Linked DNA regions of Homo sapiens: region 1 is linked to region 2. The links come from fine-mapping of genetic effects on gene expression. Tissue or cell type: whole blood. Region 2 holds a variant in brackets; the other region holds the start of a gene. Each region is shown on its reference strand, or each on the opposite one. Region 1 holds the start of TLR9 (toll like receptor 9). Region 2 overlaps CDK6 (cyclin dependent kinase 6).

Evidence for each region. PIP is the estimated chance that this variant, and not a neighbour inherited with it, causes the effect.
Region 1: TLR9 starts here. The variant in region 2 is fine-mapped to the expression of TLR9 in whole blood (TOPMed, PIP above 0.99).

The regions. Positions count from the first base shown.
Region 1 is chr3:52,223,518-52,228,892 of GRCh38, forward strand. It overlaps TLR9 (toll like receptor 9), which reads right to left and starts at 2,128. Exons shown (of 2, transcript NM_017442.4): 1 at 2,010-2,128; 2 at 1-795. The coding sequence starts at 2,012. It overlaps TWF2 (twinfilin actin binding protein 2), which reads right to left. Exons shown (of 9, transcript NM_007284.4): 9 at 5,095-5,375. RefSeq lists enhancers at 1,908-2,007, 2,260-2,761, 2,518-2,607, 2,762-3,261.
Region 2 is chr7:92,775,648-92,781,022 of GRCh38, forward strand. The region is part of intron 2 of CDK6 (cyclin dependent kinase 6); the gene reads right to left. Among named protein-coding and RNA genes, the nearest start is that of CDK6-AS1, 58 kb to the right of the region's middle. The variant C/T (reference allele first, on the strand shown) is at 3,409.

The sequences.
Region 1 (5,375 bases), not on the chromosome of region 2:
CATGCAGGGGTTGGGAGCGTGGTCGCAGCGGCGGCAATTTCCGCCCACATCGAGCACACGCAGGGCGGTCAGATTGGCCAGGTCCTCAGGCGCCAGTTTGACGATGCGGTTGTAGGACAACAGCAGATACTCCAGGCTGGAAGGCAGGTTGCGGGGCACCACAGTGAGGTTGTTGTACTTGAGTGACAGGTGGGTGAGGTTGCCCAGGCCAAGGAGGGCACCCGGGGCCACCTCCAGTGCCTGCCTGCAGGGGTTCTTGTAATAACAGTTGCCGTCCATGAATAGGAAGCGCAGGGCATGCAGGCCGGCGAGGCTGGCAGAGTCTAGCATCAGGATGTTGGTATGGCTGAGGGACAGGGATATGAGGGATTTGGGCAGCGCAGGCACAGTCATGATGTTGTTGTAGCTCAGGTTTAGCTCTTCCAGGGTGGGCACAGCCAAGAAGGTGCTGGGCTCGATGGTCATGTGGCAGGGGAAGTGCATGGGGCTGAGGCCAACCGGCGGGCAGTTCCACTTGAGGTTGAGATGCCGCAGGCTGGGCAGGTGGGCAAAGTCAGAATCATGGAGGTGGTGGATGCGGTTGGAGGACAAGGAAAGGCTGGTGACATTGCCACGGGGTGCTGCCATGGAGAAGTGGGGCACAGACTTCAGGAACAGCCAGTTGCAGTTCACCAGGCCGTGGGGCTGGAGCTCACAGGGTAGGAAGGCAGGCAAGGTACCCAGGGCCAGGGTCATGGCCAGCATGATGGCCTGCACCAGGAGAGACAGCGGGTGCAGGGCGCTGCGGCAGAAACCCTGTGGGGGTGGGAGGGCTGTGTGAGTGGCCGGCCCCCAGCTCTACCTCCACCCACTCCACTTCATGGGCATCTTCTAGCATCTTCCAACCCCTCTCTCCAAGCCCTACCTGCAGAAGTTCTTCCTGGCTGCCAAGCCCCATTCCCATCCCCCATGGCTTGTGGGGAACCTGAACTCAGTCTCAGACCCAGTCTTGGACTCAGAATTAGGCTTCAGAACCAGGACTGAGACCTAGAATCCAGACTTATGATCTACAGCTTTCACTTAACCAATCCCTGGCTATACCAGGCCAGGCAAGGTGGCCCACGGCCCCCCCTGGTCTCTCCCCGACTTTCCCTTCCTGCTCCTGAGCAAGGTGGCAGCTGGCTCCCTCCCCTCCAGCTGCCCTGAAATCCGCTCTCTGCCCTCCACCAGCCACCCCACAACCCCTTCCTTTTCCTTCGGCCAAGATTCAGGCAGGTGTGAGAGTCTCCCACTATGGCCCAGGCCGGCTGCCTCCCAGGGACCCTGGCCAGAGGGCACTGCACAGCTCCATCACTCTCTGCCTGCCTCACCTAGCCCGAGAGCCTTTGCCTTATGGGTCAGAACAGATGGAGAGAGGGGTGGCCTGCAAAGTGCCAGACAGAGCCAGCCCCAAGCTACAGGCCCAGTGAGACCCAAACCCAGGCTCCAGCCCCAGCTCCATCAGTGCCTCAGTCTCCTCGTCCCCTCTGGGGGTTTGGGTCTCATTGCTCAGAAGAGGGCTTCAGTGGCTGGGCACGGTGGCTCACACCTGTAATCCCAGCAGTTTGGGAAGCCGAAGTGGGCAGATCACCTGAGGTCTGGAGTTCAAGACCAGCCTGACCAACATGGAGAAACCCTGGCTCTACTAAAAATACAAAATTAGCCAGGCATGGTGGCGCAAGCCATAATCCCAGCTACTTGGGAGGCTGAGGCAGGAGAATCACTTGAACCCGGGAGGTGGAGATTGCAGTGAGCTGAGATCAAGCCACTGCACTCCAGCCTGGGCAACAAGAGCGAAACTCCGTCTCAAAAAAAAAAAAAAAGAAAAAAGAAGAGGGCTTCGGCTCTGAAGTCTTCAGGATTCAGTGAGTGTCCCCAGGGCCATGTGGGTGACAACCCGTCACTGTTGCTTGCAGCTGCCAAGCCCACTTCTTTCCCCACCCCTTCCCAGGATATCCCCTTCCCCAGGGGACTGAGAGCTGTTGTCCTACCATGCTGGGGGGCAGGGGCTTCTCCAGAGGGTCTGGCGGGCAGACTGGACAGCAGCTACAGGGAAGGATGCTTCACACTCGAGGTCCCTTCCCACAGGGGCAGCAGCGGCTCAGAGAATAGAGGAAGTAAGATTTTTATACCAGCCTAGTAGCTCCCCCTCCACTCCACCCTGCCCCCAGTGAGGAGGACAGGGTCCCATGAGTCAAAGGCCATTTGCATAGTCAAATGGCAGACAGCTCCTTCACCCCTTCCTCTTTCCACTCCCCTCTCAGACAGCCTACATCCCATGAGGGCCTCACACCTGTCCTCTACCAAGCCCAGGGAGGAGCTAAGGCCCAGAGCTCAGGCAGAGAGCAGGGAGAGATGGGAATTCTGGATAGCACCAGTAGCGGGTACACCTTGCTGGGCACTCCCCATTCTAAGAGGACACTTCCACCCTCAGGTCTTGGCTCCTGCACCACAGCTGGTGCCCTCAGGACAGCGGCTGCCGACTTGTCCTTTTCTGCCCTTGTAGGCACCATCTCCAGAGTTCTGCAGGGCCTCATGCGTGGAGGGCCAGGGTGTAGCTTGAGCAGGAGGCTAGGCTGCACCTGCCTTCACCACAGCCTTGCAACATCTTCCGGAAACAAGACCTCCTCCTCCACATTCCCAGAGCCCCTGGGGCCCCATCAGAGCACACACCACGTCACTCCAGATGGGGCTCCTAGAGGCCAGGTGTGTGCTGGCCCAGCAGGGCCGCCAGCCAGTCCTCCCCATCAGTTCTTCCCACTCTCCTTCTGATCTAGGTGAGGAGACTCAGATTCCTCGGGCCCAAAGCCTTGGGTGACCCCGGGCCCCTCAGCAAGTTCTGCTGGGTCCACCATGCTGAAGGGTGTGCCCACAGCCCACCGTCCCCATGTCCACCAGCCCCCATCCTCTCTCCTAGACCCATGCAGGTGCCACCTCCCTTCTGGCTGTCCTGCCCTGCTCTCTGCCCTCCAGGGGCTGGTCACATTCAGCCCCTAGAGGGAACTGTTCAAACCTAAGTCACACTAGGTCCCTCCTCTGCTCAGACCCCTCCCTGGCTGACTCTGGAGTCAAAGCCACAGTCCACAGATGGCCAACAAGGCCCTATGGGACCTGCCACCCGCTGTTCCCCTGAGTGCTCTCCAGGCCCACTGGCCTGCTTGCAGTTGACTGTGTAGCCCCTGGGCATTCTCCTGCCTCAGGGCCTTGGGATGTGCTGTTCCCTCTGCCTGAAAACTCCCCCAAGTCTCATATGACCCCTCCTTTGCCTCCATTATGTCTCTGCTCCCATGTCACCCTCTCAACAGGGCCATCCAGCCTTCTTACAAACCTCCCACCCCAGATCTGGCACTCCTGAGCTCCTTTGCCTGGTCTATGTTTCTCTTTGTCCTAACATTTTTTAACTGCTAGCACACCGGATCATTGATCTTTCATGGTTTATTGTATATCGTCTTATTCCCCTGCTGGAATGTCAGCTTCTTAAGGGCAGTGATCTTTTATCTGCATCCCCAGGATCCAGTACAGTGCCCAGCACATAGTAAGTGCTTGATATCTGCTGAATTATGTACACCCAGCAGTCAGCTCTGGGCAGGCACAGAGAGGGTATTTCTGAGTGAAGGCTGAATGAATGAATTAATGAATTGTTGCTGCTGGGAGGAGGCAAGGCTGCACATCTGCCAGCCTGCTCCCCCCAGGCCCACTCTGGGTGGTATCATGGCAGGCAGGCTCCATAGTGCCAGGCATCTGGCTGGCTCAGCAGCAGGGGGCGATGGCATCGTCTTCCTGCCCACCTGGGAGCCAATGTTTCGGCTGGGCAAGGACAAGCCTCCTCTGGGTCTTAGCTAGTCTGGCTCTCCTCTCTACAATTCTAGGGGCTTGAGCAGGGGCTCAGAAAGGCGCCAGGGATAGAATGTTGCCCTGAGCCAGGAAGGAGAGCAGTGCCCACTCAGTAGCTGGGCTGCAGGCATCAACCCCATGCTTCCACTCCTGCCTGCCTGGGGTGGAAGGCACCTGCATTCATTCCCTCCATCCACCTCTCAGAGGGATACACCAAAGCTCGGGCTCCTGTGGAGCCCCAAGCCTGAGACTTTCCCAGAGTCCCTTGGACCAGGGACCCAGACCCCCATACCCAGCAGTGGCCCTGCCTTCTTTGGAGGCAGAAAACCAGAGAGGCCAGTAAGCTGACAGAGGGGTCTGCACACACAGGTACAGACCCACGCACATGGACACACTCAGCTTGGAGACACCGATATCGATGTCCACAGAAAAACTTGTCCTGGCCTCAGCCCAGGGAGGCTGGGAAGCCTTCGAGGAGGAGCCCTTATCCCATGTGGGAGGCTGCATAAAGTCCCTCTCAGAGATCCTTGTCCTAATTCCCCAAACCTGCAAACACGTGACCCCAACACCCCACAGTGTGGCAAAAACGACTTCGCAGATGTGATTAAGTTACCCATCTTGACAGGGGTAGGTGGTGGGGGCAGGGAGGGTGAATGCAATTACAATGTCCCTTATGAAATGGAGACAGAGGGAGATTCGACTACAAAAGGCCATGGGAGCCCAGAGGCTGAGGAAAGCAGAATCAGAGATGTCACCTCTGGCTTTGAAGGTGGAGGAAGGGGCCCCAAGCCAAGGAATACAGCCAGAAAAGGCCAGGAGATGGGTTCTTCTGAGGGGCCCAGACACAGCCAGCCCTGCCAACACCTCAACTTTGGCCCTGTGAGACCCATCTCAGTCTTCCAGCCTCCAGAACTGTAAGAGAATACATTTGAGTTTCTTCGAAGCCACTAAGTTGGTGGTAATTTGTTACGGCAGCCTCAGCAAATGACCATATGCAGATCCCTCATGTCACAGTGGAGGCGCGCCTGCCTCTCCAGCAGGGCTCCTGTTGACTGGGAGACCCGCGTGAGGCTGCACGCCCACTCACAGGCACAGCCTCTCCCACACACCTGGAGGTGGAGTGCTGGGGCTCCACCTCGCAGGCCGGCACTCCCCTCTCCCCTGTTGGGAAAGGACAGTTATATGCACAAGACTGCCCAATTCCCAGGGCCAGAGGCGGTCTCTCAGGGCCAAGCACAAGTCTTGATTTAAAAATATTTTATTCTTTAGAAAATACAGCATTCAACCATCCCAAACTGCAGTGACCCCTGCCCCAGCCCTGACTGACCCCACTTCTTGTGGCCAAAGGTTTCTGGGCTGTGCTGGGACCCTAGTCTCAGCTCCCCGGGAGGCCAGGTTCATGCCAGGCCCCTGACCCAGCCCCCTTAAGCCAGCCAGGCAGGGTCCCCGGACACCCTGGGCACACAGACGAGATGCAGGGACAGCAACAGGGAAGGGTCACAAAATGCCAGCCCGGTGGCCCT
Region 2 (5,375 bases):
TCAACCACAGTACACTATTTAGCACAACAGATTCTCACCAAATGTTTGAAGAATTAAACTACCCATAAACAAGCTGTAAGTACATTTCTTAACAAGAATGTAATATAAATACTAAGAAAAAGCTAATAAAATACTATTCATATTACTTTAATTTTTAAAAAAAATTGAATAAATGCCTTCTTCAAAGAAACTATAAATGTGCATAGAGTCCAATAACTGATGCACAGGGTTGACTATCAATTATCCTGCTTACATATTACCTCCGTTAATTTTTTTTATTATATTTTAAGTTCTGGGATATATGTGCAGAATGTGCAGGTTTGTTACATAGGTATACACGTGCTATGGTGGTTTGCTGCACCCTTCAACCCATCATCTACATTAGGTATTTCTCCTAATGCTATCCCTCCCCTAACCCCCCCACCCCGACAGGCCCTGGTGTGCGATGTTCCCCTCCCTGTGTCCATGTGTTCTCATTGTTCAACTCCCGCTTATGAGTGAGAACATGAGTGTTTGGTTTTCTGTTCCTGTGTTAGTTTGCTGAGAATGATGGCTTCCAGCTTCATCCATGTCCCTGCAAAGGACATGAACTCATCATTTTTTATGAGTGCATAGTATTCCATGGTGTATATGTGCCACATTTTCTTTATCCAGTCTATCATTGATGGGCATTTGGGTTGATTCCAAGTCTTTGCTATTGTGAACAGTGCTGCAATAAACATATGTGTGCATGTGTCTTTACAGTAGAATGATTTATAATCCTTTGGGTATATACTCAGTAATGGGATCACTGGATCAAATGGTATTTCTGGTTCTAGATCCTTAAGGAATTGCCACACTGTCTTCCACAATGGTTGAACTAATTTACACTCCCACCAACAGTGTAAAAGCATTCCTGTTTCTCCACATCCTCTCCAGCATCTGTTGTTTCCTGACTTTTTAATGATTGCCATTCTAACTGGTGTGAGATGGCATCTCATTGTGGTTTTGATTTGCATTTCTCTAATGAACAGTGATGATGAGCTTTTTTTTCATATGTTTGTTGGCCTCATAAATGTCTTCTTTTGAGAAAATGTCTGTTCATATCCTTTGTCCACTTTTTGATGGGGTTGTTTTTTTCTTGTAAATTTGTTTTAAGTTCCCTGTAGATTCTGGATATTAGCCCTTTGTCAGATGGATAGATTGCAAAAATTTTCTCCCATTCTGTAGGTTGCCCGTTCACTGATGATAGTTTCTTTTGCTGTGCAGAAGCTCTTTAATTTTATTCCATTTGTCAATTTTGGCTTTTGTTGCCGTTGCTTTTGGTGTTTTAGTCATGAAGTCTTTGCCCATGCTTGTGTCCTGAATGGTACTGCCTAAGTTTTTTTCTAGGGTTTTTATGGTTTTAGGTCTTATGTTTAAGTCTTTAATCCAGCTTGAATTACTTTTTGTATAAGGTATAAGGAAGGGGTCCAGTTTCAGTTTTCTGCATATGGCTAGCCAGTTTTCCCAACATCATTTATTAAATAGGGTATCATTTCCCCATTTCTTGTTTTTGTCAGGTTTGTCAAAGATCAGATGGTTGTAGATATGTGTCATTCTTTCTTGTTTTTTTTTCCTTTTTGTGAAGGAGTTTCGCTCTTGTTGCCCAGGCTGGAGTGCAATGGCACATCTTGGCTCACCACAACCTCCGCCTCCCAGGTTCAAGCGATTCTCCTGCCTCAGCCAAGTACTACTCCCAACCCGAGTGGCTGGGATTACAGGCATGGGCCACCACGCCCAGCTAATTTTATATTTTTAGTAGAGACGGGGTTACTCCATGTTGGTCAGACTGGTCTCAAACTCCTGACCTTAGGTGACCTGCCCACCTCGGCCTCCTGAAGTGTTGGGATTACAGGTGTGAGCCACCGTGCCCAGCCATGTGGCATTATTTCTGAGGCCTCTGTTCTGTTCCATTGGTCTATATATTTGTTTTGGTACCAGTACCATGCTGTTTTGGTTACTGTAGCCTTGTAGTATAGTTTAAAGTCAGGTAGCATGATGCCTCCAGCTTTGTTCTTTTTGCTTAGGATTGTCTTGGCTATACAGACTCTTTTTTGGTTCCATATGAAATTTAAAGTAGTTTTTTCTAATTCTGTGAAGAAAGTCAATGGTAGCTGGATGGGGATAGCATTGAATATATAAATTACTTTAGGCAGTATGGCGATTTTCACAATATTGATTCTTTGTGTCCATGAGCATGGAATGTTTTTCCATTTGTTTATGTCCTCTCTTATTTCCTTGAGCACTGGTTTGTGGTTCTCCTTAAAGAGGTCCTTCACATCCCTTTTGGGTTGTATTCCTAGGACCTCTGTTAAACTTTTAATGCCTTGCTGGTTCACCATGTCATCCTTCTGCATTTCTGGGCTTTATGGACCCCACATTTGGACTTCTCTGTGAATCTATACTAAATTTTAAAGGAAACGAAAAAAAAAAACCAAAACCAAAAACAAAAAACACTTAACAAAAAAACCCCACCACTGTAATTAGGTTAAATCTGGCAGGTCAAAAAACAGAACACCAACAACTACACATGCTTCATAGCCAGATCCAAGCTTCTTTTTAATTATGGGCAGTTTGGGGTGAATTATACAACTCCATTAAAATTAACCAGAATCCATTGAAAATTTTTTCCTCACATTTATCTACTTCTAAACATTCTGGTTTTTAAGTTTTAATATCCATTCCTAAACTTAATATTTTCCCCTAATGTTACTTATTCTGGAAAATTATTCCAATAAAGTAAAAACTCTTAACAGATTTATTAAAGATAGTACCATAAATCATATTAAGTCTCACACTCTAAAAATATGATTGCTATCATGCATGGATTTAATATGTGGAAAATTTATCAAAACAGTTCTTTTGCCTTGATAATTCAAGATAACTACAACTATTCACAGGCTTTTTTAAGCCAGCTTATTGCTATTAAATCCACATACTTGGACAACTTCACTCTTTTCTTCCTATTGAAAAAGAAAATGGAGTTCCACAATCCCCAACTTTCTTTATATCTGTTGCTTGTATTTTTGTAATAAAATAAAAGAGCAGTGAACCAAAAATGGCATGTCCCTAAAGTCAAATACAAACACAGAGCTGTTTCATACTATGACCATTTCAGTTGTGTTTCTGAAACATTACTTTAAAAATATTTCCCATTATAATTAATATATTTAGTGAAAAAATTACATTGCTTACCACTACCTGGAATCAATAGTAATTTTAGTAACTCCAGTTCTTACTGCATTTATAGTTTATCATATATATATATATATATATATAAGATATTATAGTAATTTCCAAAAGAGAAAAAATTCTGACGGGGGCATAACTGGAGAATAAAGTGATCCTAAAATACTGCTGAAACAAAAAGTCATCTGCCCCCTGGAC[C/T]GTTGTCTTAGAAGTTACCTAACAACCCTGGCAGTATGCCCTGTTGCTTCATCTCACTGAAACCGTTTTCAAGCACTCTTTGCATGACACAATTTAAAAATAACATCTAACCCACCCAAGTTGCTTTCCTCAGAGTTATACTGCTCTCTTCAAAATATTAAGACTCACTGATGCCACCTGCAGCAACTGGACTCCAGGCCTCAGTTTCAATGGATGCTCAAGATACGAAAGGTGAGCTCACTGAAGCCACTACTAATTGTCCTAAATGATAAACCTTGGAGAAAAAAGGACTCATTTCAATCGGTAGTTTTTAAAACATGGAATTTTAAAGAGATGTGTAATAGTCCATAGAGCAGAACATTTTCACATAAATTTTAATGTATATACTTGCATATTCTTAAAAAATGGTATTAGGTAGAAGTGACTCCTCCAGGTTCAAGGAAATAATCCTTTTTAATTTTTAAGGTGCCATTATTATTAACTTCATTCAGGAAATGGAGCATATTAGAGACTTCTCAGACATTCACAAAGGGCATCAAGGGACATCAGAGTCCTAAGGGTGCCTGTAGGATACTCTCTTTTTTGGCTCCAGTGCTGGCTAGCCATCCACATCCTACAGACCTAGTACTCCATGGAAGACATCTGGGGAAATATTGCTCTTCCCAAAACTATGAAATTTTGTCTGACTTAAATTATGTCTGATTAATGGTTAGTAAACATTGTACTAAAAATTAACAGTTATATTAGTCACAATGGGTAGGAAATGCATTTTGAATCAATGGTTGTAAACATTAATCTTAGAAATGCTAGACTATAATATTTATGATGCTTTTTTTTGTCTACAATGACTCCCTCTGGAATTGCCCCAAATCAAATAATAGTCACTTTGGTGGGCAATAAAGAGAAAACAGAAACTTTATTTTTATTCTTATTTTTCTTTTAAGATGGAGTCTCACTCTGTTGTCCAGGCTGGAGTGCAGTGGTGCAATCTTGGCTCACTGCAACCTCCTGGGTTCAAGTGATTCTCCTGCCTCAGCCTCCCGAGTAGCTGGGACTACAGGCATGCACCATCATGCCTGGCTAATTTTTGTATTTTTAGTAAGGATGGGTTTCACCATGTTGGCCAGGCTGGCCTCGAACTCCTGACCTCAAGTGATCCACCTGCCTTGGCCTCCCAAAGTGCTGGGATTACAGGCGTGAGCCACTGTGCCCGGCCAGAAACTTTAATATAACAAATGAGTTTCATATACAACAACTGAGCTAAGCATGAATTAAAATCCCTGGTATTTGGCTAGAGGTAAACAATCTGTAATGTATTTATATAAATCAATAAGGAATGGGGCTAGGCTACCTAGAACCCTTACACTTGCAAAACAAAAGAGCCAGACAGGTCTGAACACTTGAATGTAAAAACTGGAAAATAGGCTGGGCGCGGTGGCTCACACCTGTAATCCTAGCACTTTGGGAGCCCGAGGAGGGCGGCTCACGAGGTCAGGAGATCGAGACCAACCTGGCTAACACGGTGAAACCCCATCTCTATTAAAAATACAAAAAAATTAGCCGGGCGTGGTGGCAGGCGCCTGTAGTCCCAGCTACTTGGGAGGCTGAGGCAGGAGAATGGCGTGAACCTGAGAGGCAGAGCTTGCAGTGAGCCGAGACCGTGCCACTGCACTCCATCCAGCCTGGGCAATGAGCGAGACTCCATCTCAAAAAAAAAAAAAAAACAAAAAAACAAAAAACAACAACAACAACAAAAAAAACCAAAAAAACCCCAAAAAACTGGAAAATAGCTACAACTGCATGATTCCTTATATTGACCAATATTTTAAGACTTTCTAAAACCTTTTTTTAAAAATTTTTGCTAATCTGTAACCTGACAAAAATACCATTTCAAGAATTACATGACAGCAGTTCCATAAGAAAAATGTAATCACAATGTATTGAATATGAACAAAATATCTCAGATG